Homo sapiens: one gene and its partners. The protein of the gene in region 1 purifies or fractionates together with the protein of each later gene. This does not show direct contact. Each region holds a gene or a part of one and is shown on either strand. Other genes may lie near its edges.

What was found.
Region 2: the proteins of ICAM1 (region 1) and HEATR6 purify together in Homo sapiens (affinity purification with mass spectrometry; 2 studies listed by BioGRID and IntAct, with this or other methods). This does not show direct contact.
Region 3: the proteins of ICAM1 (region 1) and ARHGEF6 purify together in Homo sapiens (affinity purification with mass spectrometry; 2 studies listed by BioGRID and IntAct, with this or other methods). This does not show direct contact.
Region 4: the proteins of ICAM1 (region 1) and WDFY3 purify together in Homo sapiens (affinity purification with mass spectrometry; 2 studies listed by BioGRID and IntAct, with this or other methods). This does not show direct contact.
Region 5: the proteins of ICAM1 (region 1) and NT5C1A purify together in Homo sapiens (affinity purification with mass spectrometry; 2 studies listed by BioGRID and IntAct, with this or other methods). This does not show direct contact.
Region 6: the proteins of ICAM1 (region 1) and GIT2 purify together in Homo sapiens (affinity purification with mass spectrometry; 2 studies listed by BioGRID and IntAct, with this or other methods). This does not show direct contact.
Region 7: the proteins of ICAM1 (region 1) and FAM118B purify together in Homo sapiens (affinity purification with mass spectrometry; 2 studies listed by BioGRID and IntAct, with this or other methods). This does not show direct contact.

What each region holds. Positions count from the first base shown.
Region 1 is NC_000019.10:10,281,120-10,284,117, reverse strand, and holds part of ICAM1 (intercellular adhesion molecule 1 precursor), read right to left. Parts: intron 798-2,998; exon of another isoform or gene 668-797; intron 638-667; coding exon 332-637; intron 86-331; coding exon 1-85. UniProt on the Homo sapiens protein: ICAM proteins are ligands for the leukocyte adhesion protein LFA-1 (integrin alpha-L/beta-2).
Region 2 is NC_000017.11:60,076,122-60,080,317, forward strand, and holds the start of HEATR6 (HEAT repeat-containing protein 6), read right to left. Parts: upstream 2,801-4,196; 5' UTR 2,794-2,800; coding exon 2,575-2,793; intron 117-2,574; coding exon 9-116; intron 1-8. UniProt on the Homo sapiens protein: Amplification-dependent oncogene.
Region 3 is NC_000023.11:136,770,933-136,774,432, reverse strand, and holds part of ARHGEF6 (rho guanine nucleotide exchange factor 6), read left to right. Parts: intron 1-3,500. UniProt on the Homo sapiens protein: Acts as a RAC1 guanine nucleotide exchange factor (GEF).
Region 4 is NC_000004.12:84,816,691-84,820,190, forward strand, and holds part of WDFY3 (WD repeat and FYVE domain-containing protein 3), read right to left. Parts: intron 3,497-3,500; coding exon 3,395-3,496; intron 896-3,394; coding exon 702-895; intron 1-701. UniProt on the Homo sapiens protein: Required for selective macroautophagy (aggrephagy). Acts as an adapter protein by linking specific proteins destined for degradation to the core autophagic machinery members, such as the ATG5-ATG12-ATG16L E3-like ligase, SQSTM1 and LC3.
Region 5 is NC_000001.11:39,662,108-39,665,607, forward strand, and holds part of NT5C1A (cytosolic 5'-nucleotidase 1A), read right to left. Parts: coding exon 3,414-3,500; intron 1,328-3,413; coding exon 1,205-1,327; intron 1-1,204.
Region 6 is NC_000012.12:109,933,869-109,937,368, forward strand, and holds part of GIT2 (ARF GTPase-activating protein GIT2), read right to left. Parts: intron 218-3,500; coding exon 154-217; intron 1-153. UniProt on the Homo sapiens protein: GTPase-activating protein for ADP ribosylation factor family members, including ARF1.
Region 7 is NC_000011.10:126,218,282-126,221,781, reverse strand, and holds part of FAM118B (protein FAM118B), read right to left. Parts: intron 1-3,500. UniProt on the Homo sapiens protein: May play a role in Cajal bodies formation.

The DNA of each region.
Region 1 (2,998 bases):
CCGTCCAGGGAACAGACCACGGTCCCCTGCGTGTCCACCTCTAGGACCCGGGGGCTGACAAGTTGTGGGGGAGTCGCTGGCAGGACTAGGGAGAGAAGAAAGGTGTGAGCAGACAGGGATGGACGTCCCGAAGCCCTTCTCTGGGGCATTTCATTCCCCCTCCTGCGAGATCCTCTTCCAGGGCCACTCAGCAGCCTAGGTCACATACGCCTAGAACACATGCACCCCTTAGCCGGGGCCACACCCATCTCAAAAGATCCTGTGGCCACAGGCACCGCATTGCAGGATACCCCACCCCCACCTTCTCCCTGCTGGCTTCTTCAATCCTCACCAAAGGTCTGGAGCTGGTAGGGGGCCGAGGTGTTCTCAAACAGCTCCAGCCCTTGGGGCCGCAGGTCCAGTTCAGTGCGGCACGAGAAATTGGCTCCATGGTGATCTCTCCTCACCAGCACCGTGGTCGTGACCTCAGCGGGCTCCCCCACAGCTGGCTCCCGTTTCAGCTCCTTCTCCCCACGGAGCAGCACCACGGTGAGGTTGGCCCGGGGTGCCCCACCCTCCACCTGGCAGCGTAGGGTAAGGTTCTTGCCCACTGGCTGCCAAGAGGGGAGGGGTGCCAGTTCCACCCGTTCTGGAGTCCCTGCAGGAAAACAGAGGTGGGGGTGTCTGGTGAAGTGGACCTTGCTGCCTGCCTAACAGACGAACTGCACCTGCCTGGGAGCCCTACCTCTTCAGTATCTCCCCCAAACACGCCCAGACACCTAAGCAGATAGGAATGTCAAGATCTTCAGTGAAAACTGGTAAGAGGGCCCCGAGTGTTTGTGAAGGGGATCAAAATATTCCTTATTCATGACAGCAGCATCTTAGAGTGAAAAGTGGAAAAGAACTTCAAAGTCTATTGCTAGGTGTCTGGTCAAATAAATTCAGCAGCCCAGTGCACTAGACTGGGCAAACAGTGGCTCGATCTTGGCTCACTGCAACCTCTGCCTCTGGGATTCAGGGGATTCTCCTGCCTCAGCCTCCTGAGTAGCTTAGATTACAGGCACACACCACCACACCAGGTTAATTTTTGTATTTTTATTTTTAATTAATTAATTAATTAAGTTTTTAGACTGAGTCTCCTTCTGTCGCCCAGGCTGGAGGGTGATGGCATGATCTTGGCTCACTGCAACCTCTGCCTCCTGGGTTCAAGCAATTCTCCTGCCTCAACCTCCTGAGTAGCTGGGATTACAGGCACGTGTCACCACACCCAGCTAATTTTTGTATTTTTAGTAGAAACGGGGTTTCAGCATGTTGCCCAGGCTGGTCTCGAATTCCTGACCTCAAGTGATCTGCCCACCCCGGCCTCCCAAAGTGCTGGGATTACAGGTGAAAGTAAATGAGCCTGGCCTAGACATTCTTTAAAAAACAAAACAAAACAAAAAAAAAAACCTGTTGGCCAGGTGTGATGGCTCAGGCTGTAATCCTAGCACTTTGTGAGGCCAAGGCAAGAGGGTCACTTGAGGCCAGGAGTTCAAGACAAGCCTGGGCAACATAGGGAGACCCCCATCTCTAAGAAAAATTAAAAAAAGGTTGGCAGGGCGCGGTGGCTCACGCCTTTAATCCCAGCACTTTGGGAGGCCAAGGAGGGTGGATCCACGAAGTCAGGAGTTCGAGATAAGCCTGACCAACAGAGTGAAACCCCGTCTCTATTAAAAATACAAAAATTAGTCTGGCATGGTGGTGCACGCCTGTAGTCTCAGCTACTCGGGAGGCTGAGGCAGGAGAATCTCTTGAACCTGGGAGGTGGAGGTTGCAGTGAGCTGAGATCGTGCCACTGCACTCCAGCCTAGGTGACAGAGCGAGACTCCATCTCAAAATAAATGAATGAATGAATGAATGAATGGTTAACTGGGTGTGGTGGTGCACACCTGTAGTCCCTGCTACTTGGGAGGCTGAGGCAGGAGGATCACTTGAGCCCAGGAGTTTAAGGCTATAGTGAACTGTGATCATGCCACTGTACTTTAGCCTGGGAAAGAAAGACCCTGTTTCTATTAAAAAAAAAAAAAAGTCAGTAATGACAGAGTCTAATAACAAAAAGGCTGCGTGTGGTGGCTCACGCCTGTAATCCCAACACTTTGGGGGGCCGAGGCAGGCGGATCACCTGAGGTCAGGAGTTCAAGACCAGCCTGGCCAATATAGTGAAACCCCGTCTCTACCTAAAAATACAAAAATTAGCCAGGCGTGGTGTTGTGTGCCTGTAGTCCCAGCTACTTGAGAGGCTGAGGTTTACTTGTGAGGAAAGGATTACTTCAGCCCAGGAGGCAGAGATTGCAGTGAACTGAGATCGCGCCACTGTACTCTAGACTGAGTGACAGAGTGAGAGTCTCTCTCAGAGGAAAAAAAAAAAAAAAAAAAAAGCATCAGGACCGGGGGGGTCCTGCATTTGATACCCAGCCTTGCTTCTTTGCTGTGGGTAAGTGACTTTGTCTCTCTGAACCTCAGTTTCCTGAACTGTAAAATAGGGCTATTAAAGGTAGGAGAATTCACTTAAGAGGTAGACAGAGTCGCTGTACATAAGCAGGAGGTTTCTTTTTTAGAGTGATTGAAATATTTTAAAATTAGATTGTAGTCATGGTTGTTTGTACAGAAGTCATTGAATTATGTGCTTAAAAGGGATGAATCTTATGGTATTCTAAATCGTATCTCAAGAAAGCAAGGCTGGGGCATGGTGGCTCACATCTGTAATCCCAGTACTTTGGGATGCCAAGGCGGGGTCATTTGAGGCCAGGAGTTCAAGGCTAGCTTGGGCAACATTGCAAGACCTCATTTCTCCAAAAAAAAAAAAAAAAATTAAAAACAAGCTGGGCTTCGGCATGGCGTGGTGGCTTATGCCTGTAATCCCAGCACTTTGGGAGGCCAGAACAGATGGATCACCGGAAGTCAGGAGTTCAAGACCAGCCTGGCCAGGCCAGACATGGTGGCTCACGCCTGTAATCCCAGCACTTTGGGAGGCCAAGGC
Region 2 (4,196 bases), on another chromosome or scaffold:
ATGATTACCTGTAATCTGTTAAGTAAATGGTGGATAAGCTGGCTCACTTTGCTGACAAGATGATTCTGATTAAGAGGTACCAGTCGGCAAGCCTGGACAAGAAGAGCACTAACGTCCTACCAAAAAAAAAAAGATAAGAGGTAAAATACTTATTAGTCAAGTGAAGATCCTCAAAACACAGCCAAATGGGAAAATAAAAGTAAATATTCACATTCAAAATGGGGAAAGAAAATGTGAGGCAGGAAGGAAAAAAATGAAGTGATAGCACAAAAACAGCATGTGCTAAAAAAGAAGGAAAAAGCCAGGCACAGTGGCTCACACCTAATCCCAGTTCTTCCGGAGGTCAAAGCGGGAGGACTGCTTGAGCCCAGGAGTCCAAGACCAGCTTGGGCAACATAGTGAGACTCCATCTCTACAGAAAAAACTTTTTTAAAAAAATTAGCTGGATATGGTGGTATGTAGTCCCAGCTTCTTGGGAGGCTGAGGTGGGAGGATGGCTTGAGCCCAGGAGTTTTAGGTCACAGTGAGCTATGATCTTGCTGCTGCACTCCAGTCTGGATGACAGAGTGAGACCTTGTCTCTTAAAAAAAAGAAAAAAGAAAAAAAAAGGAAAAGAATCAGTACGGTTTTGGTCAGGCTGAAGACTCTGTGCTCTCTATATGTAAAGACAGTATAATTAAATAACCAGAAAAAGGCTTCTAGGGTATGAAAGCACAAACTGAAGCTAAAAATATCAAAAGGTAAGTGAACCAGATTTTCAATGCCATTGGGAAAAATCAGACCTAACACTTCTATGGATTTTATGCATAATTAGGGAATTCTTAAAAAAAAAAAAAAAAAAAGAGGGACCTATTTGCAAGTCACACTCTTCATCCATCGATGTTTATAGAATGACAAGGTTCTGAGCACCTACTATGTGTCATAGTGTGCTAGGTCTTTGGGCTCCAAAGGTAAAACAAACATGTTCCTGAACCTCAAAGAGCTCACAAACTAGTGAGAGAGAAAGAAACACAACAAATAATTAAAATAAGGTGAATCAAGTGCTGAAAGAATAAAGTACAAACTCTGTCCAGAAACAGTAATTAGGGAGGCCTTGTGGAGGTGACTGTAAAGCAGAATCTGGAATGATTTGAAGGATGAGGAGAAATTTGCCAGATAGGGCATCAAAAAACACTGCAAGCAAAGTGGACAGAGTATGCAAAAACCTGGAGGTGTGAAACACTAGTAGGTGCCTGAAGAACAGCAAGTTTTAAATGGCTGCACACAGGAACAAAAGGGGGAGTAACAGGAGAGAATGGAAGTTTTGTTGCAAAAGTATCCAATTACACAAATACAGCAAAAGTCCCCGACTACTGCCTTAATCTCACTCTGCTTCCTAATGACATACACTATTATTCTGTAGTCAATTCTTTCAGACCTTTTACTTTGCATATATAAACACACATATTTTAAAATCCCTCCTCCAGCTTCATACTGATCTCATTCTGTATGAATTGTCCTGCAACTTGCTTCAACCATTTACCAATACGTATTGAAGACTTTTCCAAAGCAGATTTTAAAGTTTATGAACAATTTTTTTTCCTCCTAAAGAAAAGATCATTCTGGCATTGGAGGAATGACTGGCTTGGAGAGGAGCTAGACAGGAGGCAGGAGATCAGTCAGAGGGGATCAGCGAACAGTCCAGGCATAAGTCGCCTTGCCTGAGGTCTAAGGCACTCGCTATGGGAATAGACAGGAGGGGATGAACTGAGAAATATATATGAGACACATTCTGAAATACCTGAGTTGGTCAGGATCTGGGATGAAGGAGGGAAGAACCAGTGTTTGTGTCTGGTGTGACTTGGTGGATGATGCATGTGTGTTGGAAGGTGGGATGGACTGGGGACGGGAATGCGTGTTTGGAGCTAATGAATTTCATCTTTAGGAACTGTCTAGTTTGAGATGCCTGTGCAAGCAGGCAACTTGCACCACTTCCCTCTTTCCTACGTAGGGCCAGAAGGCCATGGTGTCAACAGTTCAGAGAATTCATTAATTTAAGGCCTGATGTGTGTAAGATTACTCAGAAAGACGGCAGAGGGGAGGAGCTAGTGTGTAGGAACAGAAAACATAGGGGCTTTGTGGCAGAGTTTTGTATACTGTATTTTTACGAGCTTCAGTATTTTCATTAGCAAACAAGCCCTAATACTACGCAAGTTCTAAGATTCCCACGTGGTCCGTGTACCATGTACGCAATAAACAGTAGTAATGCATTTTGTCAACCAAGTGTTCTGGGTGCACAGAGAGGGAGTGAAGGAGGGTGCGGGCGGATGGAAAGTTGGTATCAGAGAGGAAACCCGAGGCATTATCAGAGCAGGAGTCGTCAAGTTGGGTTTTGAATGACTCGAGCGTGCCAAGCACTGCAGGGTCTTCCAAATGGAGAACTAAGAATGTGCCAAGGTTGGAGGGGGCACGCCATCCTGAAACTAAATCATCAGGCGCGAGAGTGGGAAGATCAGGGAAAGGCAGGCAGAGGCCACCAGCTGGGTTCCCGGAGGGGTGGGGCCGGGGCCGGGGCCAGCAGGGCGCGCCGCCTACCTCCGGGGCCACGCCACTGCCCTCGCTGTAGTTCTCGGAGATGAGCTGATCGAAGAGCAGGTGGATCTCGGTGCGGGCGGAGCTGCTGTCATCCGGGCGCAGGGCGCAGAGCCTGGCAGACAAGAGGCGAAACCCATTGCCTCGCTCAGGGATTGCTTCCCGCGGTGCCTCCCGCGGCTGCACGGAAGGCCACGAACCGACAACTTGCACAGCAGCCATCTTTTCTACGGGCGGGGGGGGTGGGTGGGGTGATCCCAGGGAAATACTTCCGGGACATCCTCCCGTTCCGCGCGCTCTAGTTCCGAAAGTACCTTTTTTAGACCGGACTGGGGCTCAGAGGGGTTTCCATGACTACGGGACTCCTCCGACCGGTACCCTGCAGATGCTTGTCAGAAATTGGCTTGGAGGCCGGGCTCGGTGGCTGACGCCTGTAATCCCAGCACTTTGGGAGGCCGAGGCGGGCGGATCACGAGGTCAGAAGATCGAGACCATCCTAGCTAACACGGTGAAACCCCGTCTCTACTAAAAATACAAAAAAAAAAAAAAAAAAAAAATTAGCCGGGAGTGGTGGCGGGCGCCTGTTGTCCCAGCTACTCGGGAGGCTGAGGCAGGAGAATGGCGTGAACCCGGGAGGCAGGGCTTGCAATGAGCCAAGATCGCGCCACTGCACTCCAGCCTGGGCGACAGAGCGAGACTCCGTCTCAGAAAAAAAAAAAAAGAAAGAAATTGGCTTGGAGATTTTTCGCCGGCCACTCCTTCTTGAGCCCTGACTGAAAAGTGAGTTCTCAATTTGTGCTTCCAGAAAGTTTGTCCTCCCAGAGTTTGTTCCTGGACAGGGCTGAAGGTACTCTGTTCCGTACTAGAGTTTCAGATTCGGGCTGGAGTTGGAGAGGGTATGCTGTGGATGGCAGTAGCAGAAACCGCTAGTTCTAAGGCACCCTTCTACTCTTCTAAAATCTTTCCCCAGGCACAAAACCACCCGGAATAAAGGCTACGTTCCCTAGCATTCCTTGCAGTTGGCTGTGGCTCTGTGATTGCAATCTGGTCAGTGGAATATAAGGCAGCTTTCCCTACTTAAGTGACAGCTGGCTGTACTCTTGGTTCCTTTTTCTCCCTTTTTCCCAGTGTGAATCCTCTCATGGATCATGAGGCACCTCGCCCCACTAGAAGAGTAATTTTGGAGTTTAACTGAATCATGTAAAATATAATCTGCCTAAGAGTGACCGGGTTGAAATGAGACACCCCAAGATTTTCTGAAACCTTGAAGTCAAGAAGCTGGAGAATAAAATGGCCATTTAAAAATCTGTGATCACTTTTCAGTCATCCAGGAAGTGAAGGCTTGACTTTCACAGTTGGGCAGATTGGGAAAACCATCTCTAGGGCCTTTGAGTTATGCAAATATAAAGCAAATCCTCACCCTTGGCCCTTAGGGAAAACCTTGAAGTCACCTGAATGTATGTTTTATCCTGAGAACAAAACATTTCTGTTCAGCAGTGAAAATTGGGGGTATGCTTTAGCAGAGGTAGTTTTCTGAAGACTTTGGGCTTGGGGAGAAATGTTAATTTTTTTGTTTGGATTTAGATTCCGTTGTGCTGGTATATTATTTCTTATTCCTAGTCTGT
Region 3 (3,500 bases), on another chromosome or scaffold:
GTGATCTGCCCACCTTGGCATCCCAAAATGCTGGGATTACAGGCATGAGCCACCACGCCTGGCCAATACTATGGTATTTTTTTTTTTCAAATAAAAACATGGTGAAGTTGCCAATGATTTCTGCATTCTAAAGCTGCCAGAAGGTTTACTTAGCTTCTTTGCAGTTCTAAGAATACTGGATGATACAGAAACACCTTCCAGGTTAGGCATTGTTCAGGATTTTTCTGATAACTAATGCTTACTCCTTTAAGCACCAATGCTTAAAATATTCTTCCACTTTGGATAGAAATATTTATTGTTTAAAAAAATTATGTTTATTACTTTTATTTTTTTATGGGACACTTCACAAATTTTTGTGTTATTCTCGTACAGGGGCCATATGAATATTCTCTGTATCGTTCCAATTTTAGTATATGGGCTGCTGAAGTGAGCACAAGATAGAAATATTTCTAAAATGTATGTCTTAATTTTCTCTCTTCTTAAATAAAAGGCACTGGAAACACTTTTATCTCTTTTTGGTAATTCATGCTGACCTGGGCATTATATGAATATTGTAATGAGGCAATATCTGACATCGTGGTTAAGCACATGCCTTCTCTAGTTTGGCAGACCTAGATTAGAATCTTGGCTTGGTCAATTACTGGCTGCATAACTCTGGGACAGTTACTTGACCTCTCTATGCTCCTTTTTCCTCATCTGTATAATGGAGACATTAATAGTATCTGCTGTATATGATTGTTTTAAGGATCAAATGAGATAATACATCCAAGGCACTTAATATAGCACTGCACATAAGGCATACACAATAGCTGTTTTCTGTGGTGTTATTACTCGGTAATGTTCTCTGCATTGTTGTGTGCAAAATTATTCTTGTAAGGTATATATAGGAGCCATATTGAGGCACTCCTAGAACCCAGAAAGAAGACTAATAAAATCAATACATAAGGAATGAGACCGAAAGCTGAGCTGGGGAGCACGAAGCAGCCAAGAAGACTCATCATCTTGTCTGAAGCTTCCAGGTAGCTGGAAGACAGACTTAAACATAAATATTTGCAAATGTCCCTGGATAGAGTCTCTCTCGGGCCCAAAGTGCCTGGCACAGTGCCTGGCATAGGACATACCTAATAGATTTTTGTTGACCCTATAAAACTGTAGATGTACAAAAAGCAAGAAGAGCAGGGCTTGACTGTTGCTTAGAACACAATATTATTTATCTAAAGAAAGCATACCGGCTTGAAATTGTCAGCTTGGAAATGCAGAAAAATGGAGCCGCAGATGCAGCACCGTACCGACAAATTGAGTACTGGGCTCTGGGGCATGGTGACGACATTAAAAAAGCTGTTGCCTTCTGGTCCTCTGGGTGGCCAGTCGGCTTCTCCAAGTAACCCCCATCTGTGTGTTCTCATATGGCTACAATGTCTTAGGGTCTTTAGAGGATCACACATTTAGTAACTGATCAGGAAAGTCTGCTGAGACATCTGGGAACAAAGTGCTCTCGGAAGCACCCCACCACCTTCTTGATAGTGTCCTTTGTAACACAATTTTTTTTGTTGTTGTTGTCTGTTTGTTTGAGACGGAGTCTTGCTCTGTCTCCCAGGCTGGAGTGCAGTGGCACAATCTTGGCTCACGGCAACTTTGGCCTCTTGGGTTCAAGTGATTCTCATGCCTCAGCCTCCCAAGTAGCTGGGATTACAGGTGCCTGCCACTATGCCTGGCTAATTTTTGTATTTTTAAGTAGAGACGGGGTTTTGCCATATTGTCCAGCCTCTCCTGGCCTCAAGTGATCCACCTGCCTCAGCCTCCCAAAAGGCTGGGATTACAGGCGTAAGCCACTGTGCCTGGCCCACAAAAATTTATTAATTAGACATTTTTGTTTTTTACTTTCAATTTTTGTGGGTACATAGCAGGTGTATATATTTGTGGGGTACATGAAATGTTGTGATACAGGCATGCAATGTGTAATAATCCCATCATGGAGAGTGGGGTATCCATACCCTCAAGCATTTATCCTTTGTGTTACAAACAATTCAATTACACTCTTTAAGTTATTTTAATAAGTACAATTATTATTGACTATAGTCACCCTGTTGTGCTATCAAATGGGCCTTATTCATTCTTTCAATTTTTTTTGTACCCATTAACCATTCCTGCCTCCTTCCCCAATATACTTCTCAGCCTCTGGTAACCTGTCTTCTACTCTCTATGCCCATTAGTTCAATTGTTTTTATTTTTAGATCCCACAAATAAGTGAGGACATGTGATGTTTGTCTTTCTGTACCTGGCTTATTTCACTTAACATAATGATCTCTAGTTCCATCCATGTTGTTGCAAATGACTGATTCTCATTCTTCTTTATGGCTGAATAGTACTCCATTGTGTATACATACCACATTTTCTTTATCCATTCATTTGTTGGTGGACAGTTAGGTTGCTTCCAAATCTTAGCTATTTGTGAACAGTACTGCAACAAACATAGGAGCGCCGTTATCTCTTCCATATACTGATTTCCTTTCTTTTGGGTAACATACCCAGCAGTGGGATTGCTGGATCATATGGTAGCTCAATTTTCAGTTTTTCGAGGCACCTCCAAACTGTCCATAATGGTTGTATTAATTTACGTTCCCACCAGCAGTGTATGAGGGTTCCCTTTTCTCCACATCCTCTCCAGCATTTGTTATTGCCTGTCCAAAAGTTTTTAATTTTGATGAAGTCAAATTCATCTCTTTTGTTGCTTGTGCTTTTGGTGTCATATCTAAGAAACTCATAATCAAATGTCTTGAAGAATTTTTTTCCTGTTTTCTCCTAAGAATAATATAGTTTTACTTCTTACATTAAGGTCTTTGATCTATTTTGAGTTAATTTTTGTATATGGTAGGAGGTACGGGTCCAAATTCATTCTTTTGCATATGCACATCCAGTTGTTTCAGTAACATTTGTTGAAAAGACAACATTAGCCAATTCCTCCATTGAACTGATTAATGTAGCTACGTAGTAAGTTTTAAAAGCGGGTCCTTCAACTTTGTTCTTCATTTTCAAAATCACTTTGGCCATTCTGGATCCCTCGCATGTCCATATGAATTTTAGGATCAGCTTGTCAATTTCTACAAAAAAGGCCAGCTGAGATTTTGATAGTGATTGTGTTCAATCTATAGATTGCTTTGGAGAGTGTTGCCATCTTAATAATATTAAATGTTTGAATCCATGAACATGGGATGTATTTCCACTTATTTGTCTTATGGGATGTATTTCCACTTATTTGTCTTTAGTTTCATTCAGCAATATTATGTACTTTTCAGTGTACATGTCTTATACCTGCTTGGTTCAATTTATTCCAAAGGATTTTATTATTTTTGGTGTTATAAAAAAATAGGATTGTTTTCTTGATTTGGTATTTAAATTGTTCACTGCAAGTGTATAGAAATATAATTATTTTTTTGAGACAAGGTCTTACTCTGTTGCCCAGGCTGGAGTGCAGTGGTGTGATTACAGCTCACTGCAGT
Region 4 (3,500 bases), on another chromosome or scaffold:
GATTCTAAAAATTTCTTACATATCATTTCTTATAATATCAATAACCAGTAATATGGGAGAATGTGAGTGTATAAATCTGTATAAAACAATGGTGCTGTGGAAATAAAACGGGTATTGAAATCTGGGGGTCGGTTCTACTAATTAAAAGTCACTTAAGTGAACAAAATCCATGTTATATGATTTCTCTAAACCTAAGTTTTCTCATCTGCAAAACAGGGTGCTACTTAATTTATAGTATTACTAAGGAGTAAATGATAAAAGCATATGTATAACTCCTGGTATATTGTTTGATATCTACTAGAATATCCATTACTTACATACATACATATATGCATGCATGTGTATAAAATGCCAAATCTAACATTCATTTCACAGATGCATAACACTATGAGTGAATTTAACTGATCAGAAAATACATATATTTAGTATTAATTAAGATCCTATACTTCACTAATATTTAATTTAAGAGTTCCAGTAAGTCAAGATAATTACTGAAAAGGTTTATCAGCAGAAGTAAAATATATACTGAAAGACATAAATGACTGGAGTTTTTCCAAGTTCCTAACGTGTACAAAGTTGTGAGGTTTCTTGGGTAATTTGGATTTTTTTTAATTTCCCTGTCTCTAACTTAAATACAGATCATCTAAAAATAACCACAGATTTTAGTAGTAAAAGAAGGGAAACACATTTATCAAACTTACCCTTAAAATATCAGTCTTCAACTGCAATTCCGTCGGTGGGGCTGAATGCATTAGCCCCAGGAGAGTGCCCATGTCATCGTCCCCATTTGGGGAGAGCACCAGCTGTTGGATAGTCATCAAGGCATGCTGCCGGCATTGAGGGTACTTTACTATATTATGTGCACATCTTGCACCTCCAAATTCTCGAAAAATTCCTTGAAGGAAGGAGAAAAAGTCCAACAATGGCTACTTTAAAATATTCTGAGACAAGTCAGATGAATTAACATTCAGTTATTTTTTGTAGGTAAAGTAACTCATAATAATGTAAATAAAACCTACCCAACTATTTCACCTTTTAAATTACAATACAAATTTGCACAGTGGGTTGTCAGCAAAGGTATATGCAAATTTTCTCTACATTTCCTTAATGCAAGATTAATGCCGTGATATGTTCACCATGTCCAAGCTCTCAAAATCTAGAACATTCACAAGTCTCTTAGGCAGACCCTAGGAGACTCTCTATTGTAATCAACTTATGTAAAAGGCTTTCAGAGGAACAATAGCCTAAATAAAGGAGATTTAAATGAACATGGCTTCCAAAATAGTAGCAAGAAAGGAATGGAATAAATTATTCCACCATGGGAAAAATTACAAGGAACCAACATGTTTTGTTGCACAGGTAGAGCATAAGAACAAAAAGTGACAAATTCTGTAACAGAAGTATGTGTCATTGTTACTGCTCCAAAGCCTTTACACAGATTGACTTACTTAATACTCATCCCCTACCATATAGAGGTAAGGCGGTCAAAGTCATACAGCTAGTAAGCAACAGAAAAGGATGTATGCCTACATAGCCCAGCTCTGTAAGCCTGTGCTCCTGCTCACAAGTGATACTGTTCTCACATCAAATATTAATATCATCCTCCAGTATTAAAAAAATGGGCCCAGTGACTGAAATCACTAATTAGTATTTCCTCTAAGTAATTCTTCTATCCCTTACGTTTTTAGGGCATCTTGTTTATATCTCTATTATGGTTTATAACAAACAGTCTTACTATTATTGCTTATGTTTGGTCTTCCATGACTACTGGATTTTCTCCTGATTTGTGTTTCAATAAACGTTTACTAAAACAGTGTATTCTGCTATAGCAGCCACTGTCCTCTCTGCTTAGTGGCTTTCTATTTGTTAACTTTATAAAAATTATAAGATCATGAAGTCAGTCTAAGCCATGTGCTTGAGATTCAGCACATGGAATTTGTGACATCCTTTCATTACCTGAAGGCCTGTTTAGTTACCTCCTGGTTGTCAGTTAGGACCCACTAGATAATCATAATGGCTAATATTATTTAAATACTTAAACTATGAGTAAAGTACTGTTTTAAATGCCTAACATCACACAGCTAGTAACATCTTTCATACTGGGAAAAGAAAAACTGAAAAGAATTGTATGAAATTGTTTGGCACTTTGGGATATGTACTAAGTGACTTTTAGTCGTGCAGAGTAAGCTCTCCAATTGTCCAATCTCTTCCTGTGCAACTTCTAGGTCGTCTCAAGGAAAGCTAATTTGCTAAGCAAATTCCTGTTAGTCTATCTTCATTATGTTTCTGATTATCTCAGTTAACTAAACCTAGTTAGTGGAAATAAGATTATGCATTATGCCATAGACAAAATGTTACTATAGTATCCACTAAAATTCATCATACTCATTGTTTCAATTACCTGTTAAATTCATTCAAGTCTATCTTAGCATTTGCCAAATTTGTATCAGACTAATTACTTCTATAATTATGTGTCTACATTTTTCTTCACTAGATTCTAATTCCCAGGGAGCAAGAATGATCTTACCTTAGCATCTAGGTGTTAGAATAATCTAACACCTAGCTAGCATGGTACCTGGGATACACAATATATTTTAAATATGATGAATGCTGAGTTTCCCTGCATTCAGGCAAACAGTCATGCATTTGGGCATGGGGTTCATTCATCCATGGCTTTCCATAACACTTAAAATATATTTCAAGCTCCTTACCATGGCCTAAAAAGCTCCCTATGATTTGAGCCCAGCCTACTAATCTGAACTCATTATTCCTCTCAAGTTGTACTGAACTTATTACCTGAGAGTTGTTTGATGTTAATTAAAATCTCAAGTAATCTTTTTTAAAAAGCAAGAGTGATATTTTATAAATATAGTTAGGTTATCTGTTAATGACAGGTAGAAAAGTATAAAAGAGAAATTGAGACCAAAATTAAACAAAATATTTAGTAAAGTTAATTAACCTTGGAGAGATTACGTTTTATTAGAGAATCATTGTTCAGTATTTCCTGAAGGTTGTAACATTATAATACTCTAACTTGTAGTACTAAAAATATTCTTTAAATCACTGTGTAAAGAAAATATTTTAGAAAGAATTTAAATAGCAACTTATTTGAGTAAGAGTGTATCAATAAAAAATTAGAAGAATACTTTCAACACAAGACACTATAAAAAGCAATTTAAACATCATTTTGAAATAGTAACAATCTTATATGTTTTGTCATCAAGGTGCTCCTGATGGTCAAAAGCACTGCATTTTTAGGGACATGACGGGTACCATCACTGAATCAATAGTTTTTTCTCTAAAGTGACAGGAAGATTTCAGAAGCAAGAATAACCACAGAAGATGTAATCAGTGGTAATCTCCCAAAGTATTTGCTTGCAGCTTTTTAAATTACCTGCATTTGTGTTTGATCCTTGAAGAAGCACTGTCAAGGTCTCCATAACCAATAAAGCCAGGTGTTTTTGGTCTTCAACTGAACTATTATTTCTTGAGTCCCCTAA
Region 5 (3,500 bases), on another chromosome or scaffold:
GGGCAACTGGCCGAGCTCATTCCCTAGTCTCCATCTCTTCAAAGACCACTTCAGCCCAACTCTTTGAAAACTGAGGATCACAGAGGCTGGGCTTAGGTGAGCTTTGGGAGGAGTGAGCAGTGCTACCTGCACACAACTTCACTAGCCTGAGGATACTACAAGCAGGGCCAGTGCCAGGCATCAAGCCAGGTACCCTCTCAGCTCTGCCAGCACTGGAATCAAGATGACCCAGAACCACCCCTACCCTCAACAGGGCCTCCCCGTGGACCATTCTCCTGCTCCCTAGCCTGAGGTCAAGTTACAAACACACAGAGGCACACCTACATGCCAGTGCCAAGGCCCCAACCAGAGGGTGTGACATCTGTCTAGGGAAATGGCTCCTGGTTCCTGGTTAAAGAAAGCCTCTAGGAGCTCCCAAGCAGCTCAGGAGAGTGAGTTATCAGGGGGAGAGGGGCCAGGCTTCCAGGCAGGAGACAACATGAAAGAGGAAGAGAAAAGTGAATATATTGTTGGTTGATAAAGAAACTTGCCACTAGTGTTCAGCCTAAGGAACCCTCTCAGGTACCTGGCCAGTCCTTGCTCCTCTATGGGCCTGTTTATCTCATGTGCAATAGGATACGCACCTCGTTGGGAGGACTGAGACTATGGATACCACCCAAAACTGCCCCTCGAAAGACACACATAGAGGGACATTCTCTTTGTCAGTACTTGCATCTGGGTCTCCTAAACTCCCCTAAGCACTGGCCAGCCCAGCTGCTGGAGATGCTGGCCATTCCCCAGACCCCACCACTCAGGCTTTCAGGCTGGACTAGATATGAATCCTCCTTCCCATTGGCCCAGGGCAGGGCAGAGGCTGCCTATGGTCCTACAGGAATCAGAACTCCTTCTGACTTGGAGGAATCATAGAAGAAAGTAGCTTTCTGGGCTGTAGAGAGGGTTTCCATGGAAACAGAAGGCTGGGTGATGCTGAGAAGTAAAAGCATCCATGACACAGTAGGGCCAGATGTAGGAAGATGGAATGGGTAGGGCCTTGGTTTCAGAATTTATAGGACAGATTATAAGAATTAAGGAAAGTATTGCTCAGCCTTGCCTTCTAGTTACCATGGCAACTCCCAGCACCTGCTCGGAACTTCAGGACCAGGCCTCCCACCTCAGGGACCCCTTTGCTGCACTCCCCATATTCTTCCTCTTCACTTAGACTTACCCTCATCAATGGCTTCTCGCACTTTTTCCGCATCGGCTGACAAGTAGAGGTTGGTGTGATAGGCCTTGAGGTAGCAGATCGGGCTGTTCCCACCTGTCATGCAGAACCTCTCGATGAACAGGTCTGGGAAGGAGGTAAAGGACCCAGGTGAGGCCAGGGTCAACCCTGGGCTTCAGGGCAGTCTCTCTGTGCCCAGTGCACACCATCCTAGTTCTGGGTGTGGTACGGCAGCACAGCGTGTCTCAGTGTAATTTTAGGCCAGTGTTCCCCTCTGAGCCCCTCCATCCTTCATGAAATGAGGACGATCACATCTCTAGAGCAATTGCCCAGCTCACAGGGACATCCTCTTGTCAAGGAATCACAGTGCTACATGCCTGTGTGACCCCGCCTCCTGGCCATAGCTGCCATAGCTGATTGGATAAGAGCAGACATCTGGCCCAAGCTGGGCCAATCTGATTACCTAGGCTGCCAATCCGCTGGTCCCCATTACTGCAAAAGTTGTAAAGTATTTGTTGGTTGATAAACGGCTGCTGCTCTGAGCCCATTAAGTTACCCGTCACTCTCGCAGCCCCTTACCCAGGACCTCTGTCCTCTCCAGAGTCCACAACACAAGGCGGTAATGCCTTGTACGGCAGGGGTCCTTCAGGGCCCTGCTTCAGCACTATAGGGAGAGTCTGTCCTGATTACGCAGTGTGTATGTCACACAGGTGGTTAAATATTTTTACGATCAACCCTGCTCCCAAGAATTTGAAATTAGGATTTAAAAATGCCAACTAGACTCTCTTGGTTGCTAAAAACCAGGCCTGGTAAACCTATAAATATAGGTGTATTCTTTTTCTTTCTTTCTTTTTTTTCGTTTTGAGACAGAGTCTTGCTCTGTCGCCCAGGCTGGAGTGCAGTGGCGTGATCTCGGCTCACTGCAAGCTCCGCCTCCCGGGTTCACGTCATTCTCCTGCCTCAGCCTCCCGAGTAGCTGGGACCACAGGCCCCACCACCATGCCCGGCTAAATTTTTTTGTATTTTTAGTAGAGACGCCGTTTCACGGTGTTAGCAATCCAATCTCCTGACCTCGTGATCCCCCGCCTCGGCCTCCCAAAGTGCTGGGATCACAGGTGTGAGCCACCGTGCCTGGCCAGGTGTATTATTTTTCTGTCTCTCTCTCCCCAGAGTGGATTTCTCCTCCTCTCCTCTCCTCTCCTCTCCTTTCCATCTCACTCTGTCACCAGGCTGGAGTGCAGTGGGGTGATCTCGGCTCATTGCAACCTCTGCCTCCCGGGTTCAAGTGATTCTCATACCTCAGCCTCCCGAATAGCTGGGATTACAGGTGTGCGCCACCACACCAGGCTAATTTTTGTATTTTTAGTAGAGACAGGGTTTTACCATGTTAGGCTGGTTTTGAACTCCGGACCTCAAGTGTTCCACCCGCCCTGGCCTCCCAAAGTGCTGGGATTACAGGAGTGAGCCACCGCACCTGGCCTGCTTTTCTTGAATACGGTTTTTATTTAGGAAAAGCAGAGAAATCCAATTTCAGGGGAGAGAGGAAAAAAAAAAAGAGCAAACTTGCTAGAGAAGCACAAATAAAGGTTCATGTGGCCTGAAGAAAAGAAGAGCCGGGAGAGATTTCTAGTACTTGGATTCAGGTCTTTGTAGGCCCAATTTTATTTCCTGCCCTCTGAAAGACACCCCTGTAACCTAATAAAAAATTCTCCTGGGCTTAAGCTAGCTCTGGAGGGGCTATTATTTTTAACCTTGAGTTTAGAATAAGACACAAAGCCCTTTCACTCTGACAGCTGCACCTGATTCTCCCAGCAGCCTTGTGAGGCCTGTTAGCCCCATCACAGTTAGAGAAACTGAGGCAGGGAGGCAGTAACTGTCTCACCTAATCACACGGAGAGTGGGGTGTGCTGGAGCTGGCTTGGACTGGCTTGCAAGAGCCCACAGTTAAACATTCAGAAATTTTGTGAGCCATTTGTGTTGTTCAACCACTGACAGCTTGAAACCAGTCCTGGTGGAAATATTTTACACCTGAAAACTAGCAACACTACAAGTCAGGGTTTTGTTTGTTTGTTTAAAGAGCGAATTTACCAGCACACACTGGACTTGGGGTTCTGGTCAGTACAACTCCATCCTGCAGAGGTGTGGCCCCATCCCTGGGGGGTCTGGTAGGGGTGTCCCAGGGCAAACCCCCCATCCTCATGCTCATGCTCACCATAGTGGTTGATACTGTTGATGAGGCGGACACCCACTTGAGCATGGTTGTTAGTCATGAGGACGATGTCGAAGACGTCCTCACTAT
Region 6 (3,500 bases), on another chromosome or scaffold:
GGGGTTACAGGCGTGAGCCACCACACCCGGCCTCGACTGCATATTTTAAAACTGCATGTGCTACAAAAAAGCTAATGTAATATATAGGTCATAAAGAAATTTCTTGCTGTTCATTTAAAAGGATTTAAACCAAGTGAGTAGGAAGTGACTTACTTTGGGGAATAATGCTGCCATTTCTGTAACAGCTACGTGTATCCTCTCTGAGCAGGGAATATAACTGCAAGAATATTGAAGAAGTTATTCAATGACAGTAAAAATGATTCGGAGGCAAAGAGGACTCAAGTGCTAGAACAGATTCTGTTTACATTCCCTTCATGAAGGGGCTAGGGCTGCAGTCAGCCGTGCATCCCACACCACCAGAGGGCACATGGTTATAAAGCAGGACTCTCATTGCTTCCTAAAAGTTCAATCTGATGAAAAGTCTCCAGGTATGAAATATGGCAACATACACTCTTGGTCAGGTGAGGCCACACAACAGTACAGAAACATAATTCACCCCTCCTCACGTCAGTCATTTACTTCTCATGTGTTTCATCGTCCCAATTTCTAGAAAGAGAAAGGATTTCCATGCAAAAGGCCACAGAAGTGAAAAATAAAGGACTGAAAAAATTCCTTAAAATTAGAATTGGAGTCTCTCAAGTAGCTGGAACTTCAGGCATGCACCGCCATGCCTGGCTGATTTTTAAATATTTTTTTGTAGAGGAGTCCCACTATGTCGCCCAGCCTTGTGTTGAACTCCTGGATTCAAGTGAATCTCTTGCCTCAGCCTCCAAAGTGCTGGGGTTACAGGTGTGAGCCACGGTGTCCAGCCCTTTCCCCATTTTTTAAACCATGAAGTTGGCTTCTGAATAGATTGTCATAAGCAACTTATGCACTTCACCTTTGTAACAAGTCTAGTTTCAAAACTATTATAATTAAAACTGTCGGCCGGGCGCAGTGGCTCACGCCTGTAATCCCAGCACTTTGGGAGGCCAAAGCGGGCGGATCACCTGAGGTCAGGAGTTTGAGACCAGCCTGAACGACATGGTGAAATCCCGTCTCTACTAAAAATACAAAAAAATTAGCTGGGCATTGTGGCGCATGCCTGTAATCCCAGCTACTCAGGAGGCTGAAGCAGGAGAATCGCTTGAACCCGGGAGGCAGAGGTTGCAGTGAGCCAAGATTGTGCCACTGCACTCCAGCCTAGGGGATAAAAGCGAGATTCCGTCTAAAAAAAAAAAAAGACTGCCTACATTTTAAATTAAACCATTACATTTCAAGAAAATGGTTTATAGTATCCAAAAATGCCTTCATTGGAAATCCTGACTTCTACCTTTGTGAGCAATTAGAATCACAAACCATTTAATAACAAAAATTCCAACATATATGGAGTTATTTAACTTGTAAATATGAAGGGGCAACAACCTATCTGGTCACACAGATTTCAGAAAGAGAAAAAAGCAATGTCCACAGCCGTCACATGTATCATGCATACTAATAAACTGTGTGTCTGTTAATATCACAGTGACTGAGAACCACACTGAAGTTTTTTTTTTGAGATGGAGTCTCGCTCTGTCGCTCAGGCTGGAGTGCAGTGGTGCAATCTCGGCTCACTGCAACCTCCGCCTCCTGGCTTCTCCGCCTCCCGGCTTCAAGCAATTCTCCTGCCTCAGCCTCTCGAGTAGCTGGGATTACAGGTTTGCACCACCACACCCGGCTAATTTTTGTATTTTTAGTAGAGATGGGGTTTCACCATGTTGGTCAGGCTGGTCTTGAACTCCTGACTGATCCACCCGCCTTGGCCTCCCAAAGTGTTGGGATTACAGGCGTGAGCCACCGCGCCCAGCCAGTGAAGAGTTTTATATTTTGTTGTTTATGGTTTCATTTTTGAGAAATACGATTCACCCTTTCCTCCTGCTACACAGAGAAGGAATCTTTCCTAAGGCCATCTCTCAAAAGCTCACTCATTATGAACTATTTGGGGAAGTCCTCCACACGATAGAAAAGCGAGCACACCCGGATTAATGAGGAAGCCCTCCTCCTCTAACAGGAGTCCATATTCACAACTTCACATTGGTATCTTTCCTCAAAAAGGTTTTCGTGCATAATATGTCATAATCCCTGAATTGTATGTGTGCCTGTGTGAGGGCAGGAGTGAGGCTGGAGGCCCAGGAGACAAGACCAGACTTCAGGAAGGTCAGGGGCTGGGGTTGCTTACATGGATCAAGAGGAGAAAACAAGAGAAAAAGGCATGGGTTTAATTCGTACAATTCAAGATGATAAATAAAAGCATCTTGAATTTTAATATAGGATTGAACAATTTATGAAATATAAATTCTCTAGACCAATTATGGTTTTAAACCAAAAGAATGAGCTAATGATTAAAATCTCTGCATCATTCTCTCATGGTCTTAAAAAAAAAAAAAAGGAAATCAGATCATTATATGTGTTGTTGAATGGATTTGTAAATTTTAAACAAAGAAAGAAAAAAAAAAGAAATTTCCCAAATTGTACCAAGCACCATATTGCATCTTTGAAGTAGAAATGGCCTCAGGGCAGATATTTGTATTTTTGACAAAGACAGCAATATAAGGCAAGCACATTTTAGTTTGAAATACAAGCACAGCACTTCTGAACTAGAGGAAATGAAAAGCGAAGCACATTGACAAATGGGGTCACGGTGCTCGGGAAGAAAGTGTTATTGAATCATGATTACATTAAACGCTGTCAAAAACTTTGGCCAAGCACGGTGGCTCACGCCTGTAATCTCAGCACTTTGAGAGGCTGAGGCGGGTAGATCACTTGAGATCAGGAGTTCGAGACCAGCCTGGCCAACATGGTGAAACTCTGTCTCTACTAAAAATACAAAAAAATTAGCTGGGCATGGTGGCATGCACCTGTAATCCCAGCTACTTGGGAAGCTGAGGCAGGAGGATCGCTTGAGCCAAGGAGGCGGAAGTTGCAGTGAGCAAGATCGTGCCACTGCTCTCCAGCCTGGGTGACAGAGCAAGACTCTGTCTCAAAAAAAAAAAAAAAAGCTCTGTACTTTGGAAAGCCATGGGACACTTTGCTTTCTGTAATCAAATATGAAGTCACTCACTGCCAAGACTATGGTCCTGAGCAAAGTGAGTGTGCTTGTAACCCGTGGGGTCCCAAAGGCATGGTATGAAGAGAATGCCTGGGAAAGGAGGGAGGAGGAAGCCAAATAATTAGACAGTTTTTATCGAAGGAGGCTTAAAAGTTATGCATGTTTCTCTTTTTCTCTGAGGAGCTTCCAGCAGTCCCTCCAGAAGACTAACTCTTATCTTTCAATAAACATGGATTATTCCCTTCTTTCCTAGTGGGAAATAAGGACACTGGGAGATGTGTGAGCCATATAAAAAAGGGTACAGAAAAGGGAGGTTGGCCCAGTAGTGCCAGGACTACAAAAGGGAATACAAAGGCCCAGATGCATGTTTGTGTGGAAGAAGAAAACAGAGAGAAGAGTAAACAGCACAGCATCCCTTGAATACTTTTTGCTC
Region 7 (3,500 bases), on another chromosome or scaffold:
TCCTCCCTCCCCTCTAGTGGGAGGTCTTCCCTGTTTCCTAAATGCTGAGGATCCGCAGGGCTCTCCAGTCTATTCCCTTTACATACTCCCTTCCCTTCCCACCCCATTCACCCCTAGATATTAAAATACCAACTAAACGCTAAGGACTCCCAAAACGCTACCTTCAGTTCAGATCTCGGTGGTGCTTCAGGCCCAGGAGATAGCCATGTAAGTTTCAGTCAGGCAGCCCTTCAATATTGAAAGGTACTTTCAGACTGTACTTCAAACTTAAAAACCAAAAAACCGTTCAACAACCTGCTCCTTATCCTAAGTTATACAGATCTCTGAATAGTAGAAATAAGCTATGTGATAATATTTATAGGCCATTATTTCTTTCTTTCTGTTTTAAGCACCAACATATGTATTTACTGATTTTGGAAAAACTGTCATATACTTCAGAATAATGTATTTGGATCATTTCTAAACAAGAGAATATGAACCAAAGGGAACCCAGGGAAGAAAGTAAATCTGTAACCTTAAACTAGCATGATATTCTTTTCAGGATATTCTCTTTTTCCTAATAAAAATTAGCCAAAAATTAATATTGTTTTTCTTTGAGATGGAGTCTTACTCTGTCACCCAGGCTGGAGTGCAGTGGCTTGATCTCAGCTCACTGCAGCCTCTGCCTCCCGGGTTCAAGCTATTCTCCTGCCTCAGGCTCCCAAGTAGCTGGGATTACAGGCCCACGCCACCATGTTTGGCTAATTTTTGTATTTTTAGTAAAGACAGGGTTTCACTATGTTGGCCAGGCTGGTTTCAAACTCCTGGCCTCAAGCGATCCACATGCCTTGGCCTCTCAAAGTGGTGGGATTACAGGCATGAGCCACTGCGCCCGGCCTACTATTCTCTTTGATCTGAAGATGAACTGAGAGCTGAAAAGCACTGTTTAGATCTGAAATAAGAATCTGAAAGCTCTTAAAAAAAAAAAGGCATTATTTGTCACAGAAGCCATCAGAACAACTACAAAGACCAGGTTTCTTAGGAGAAATAGCTCTAAAAACATGGTTTTGCCAAGCAGGTAGCATCAGTCTTTTTTGTTTGAGACAGTCTTGCTCTGTTCCCCAGGACGGCAAGATCATGGTTCACTGCAGCATCAAACTCTGGGGCTCAAGGGATCCTCCTATCTCAGCCTCCTAAGCAGCTGGGACTACAGGTGCGCACCACCACACCTGGCTAATTTTTAAATTTTGTTGTAGAGATGGGCTCTTGCTATGTTGACCAGGCTGATCTTGAACTCCTGGCCTTGTCAAGCAATCCTCTTGCCCTGGCCTCCCAAAGTGTTGGGATTACAGGCATGGGCCACCAAGCCCAGCCAAGCATCAGTCTTAAAAAAAAAGTGGCCAGTGAAAACAATTGAGGGTATTAAAAAAAAAAGAGAGAGAGAGAAAACAGAAAGCAGGTTAGGGAGACTAAAAACATACTTTCATAAGGAAGTGAAGGAGGTCAGTGGAAGACCAAGGAGGACTCTCAGGGAGCAGCCAGAAAGCTGGGCAGCCTGGGCCCAAGGGAGGCAGGTGGAGACTTCATTCAGAAAAAGAGAGCACCTTTCCCCCAGATTTGAAAGTAACAGATCACTGCAGGAAATATGCAGAAAGAGCAAAATGAAGCCCCCCTTCCTCCAACGTGGAGCTAACCACTGCTGACATTCGGATTTATGTGGAGAAAAGCAGTTTTTAAGAGGAACTCTCGGAATAAGTCTGAGTATCTTGGGTTCATGTTCATATCAATTCTAAAAACTTCATTCATTAGAGTTTGCCCCTGCTTTCACACCATAAATCTCCATACATATAAGCCCCCCCTTTAAAAAAAATTCTTCCTTCAATGTCTTATTAAAATTAACTTAAAAAAAAAACTCAAGCAGCTCGAGCTGCTTTTTTTTTTTTTTTAAGTTAATTTTAATAAGTACAGTAGTGCATGTTTTCTGCAGTAGAAGAAAGAAAGAAGCAGTCTATTTCTAGTGGCTGGGGGTAGGGAGGTGCTGGGGAAGAGCAGGAACCTAGGAAGAGTCAGCAGAGGGTAGCCACGCCCCAGCCCCATGGACGAGACTCCTGAGGAATCCATAAAACTGCGAAGTACTAAGTTCTGGCAACAGATCTCAAACCTGCTCCTTAGCAAGAGAGCTAAAAAGAGAGTGTTTCTTATGTACTCTGTTAATTTGACTCTTAAGGCATATAAACAATAGGGAGACCCTGTCTCTACAAAAATAAAAAACTTAGCCAGATGTGGTGGCATATGCCTATGGTCCCAGCTACTTGGGAGGCTGAGGTGGGAGGATTGCTTGAACCCAGGAGGTCGAGGCTGCAGTGAGTCATGATCATGCCCACTCCAGTCTGGGCAACAGAGAGAGACTCTCAAAAAAAAAAAAAAAAAAAAAAAAAAAAAAAAAAAAAAAAGATAAACAAGAGCTGAAGGATAAGCTTCCAAAATAAACGAGGAAAACAAGAAATCTGTGCTTTTCCTTATGTGATATTCCTGTGCTGCATTCCATGACACTAAGAATATAAAACATGATAACTTCTGTCCTTACGTGTTTACTTCTTAATCTTTTTCAAAGTACGCTATTAAAATGGCAACAGAGGAGTTTTTCTTTTTTCAAGGTATAAAACCAAGAATGTGAGGTGCAGGAGATAAGCATTCAATTTTTCAATGAATTTTTGGAGATGGAAAGCAAGCTTTAAATGCAGATCTGAAAATACGGATTGGCATAAAGTCTATTTAACTAATGCGCAAATTCTCTTCCTCACCTCCTATTTTCATCTATTTTCTCCACCCCCAAATCCAGAGGTTTAAAGAAAAATGAACCGAAATCTGAAATGGGTCTGGAGTAAAATACATCAGCAGGAGCAATGAAGAACTGAAAATACAGATTATGTCAAAAGATGCATACTAAAAGGTTCTCCAAGCCTCCATCCTTGTCCCAGCAACCAATGCACTGTCAGCTAAAGAAATATTAGCAAACATATACATTTGTACAAACATACACACAAAATCCATATATACCAGCCACCCTATAGTAATGGCCACCACCCAACAAGACCCACGCTGGGAACTTAAAATAACAAAAAACAAAACAGAAATGAACAGTCAGAATCATGAGACATTCAAAGAAATCCCACAATAAAATAATTCATTTATTCCTTAAGTTATTAAGCATCTATTCATCGCCAGGCACTGTTTCAGAGGCTGGAATTATAGAGGTAAACAAAAAAAAACCCAAAATCCCTGCCCTCATAGAATGTTTATTTTAGTGGTGAGGGAAACAAGTAAATAAATATGTGGGATGCTAGATGGTGGGAAATGCTTCTGGAGAGAAACAAAGCAGGGAAGTGAGATGGGGGTCTGCACTTCTCAATCCAGTGCTCTCTTCACTGAGGTGACATTTAAGGAAAGACTTGTGGATTCATCCAAAGTGAGGTGTGGGAGCAAGTCGCTGGATATCTGAGGGAAGACACATCCAGACA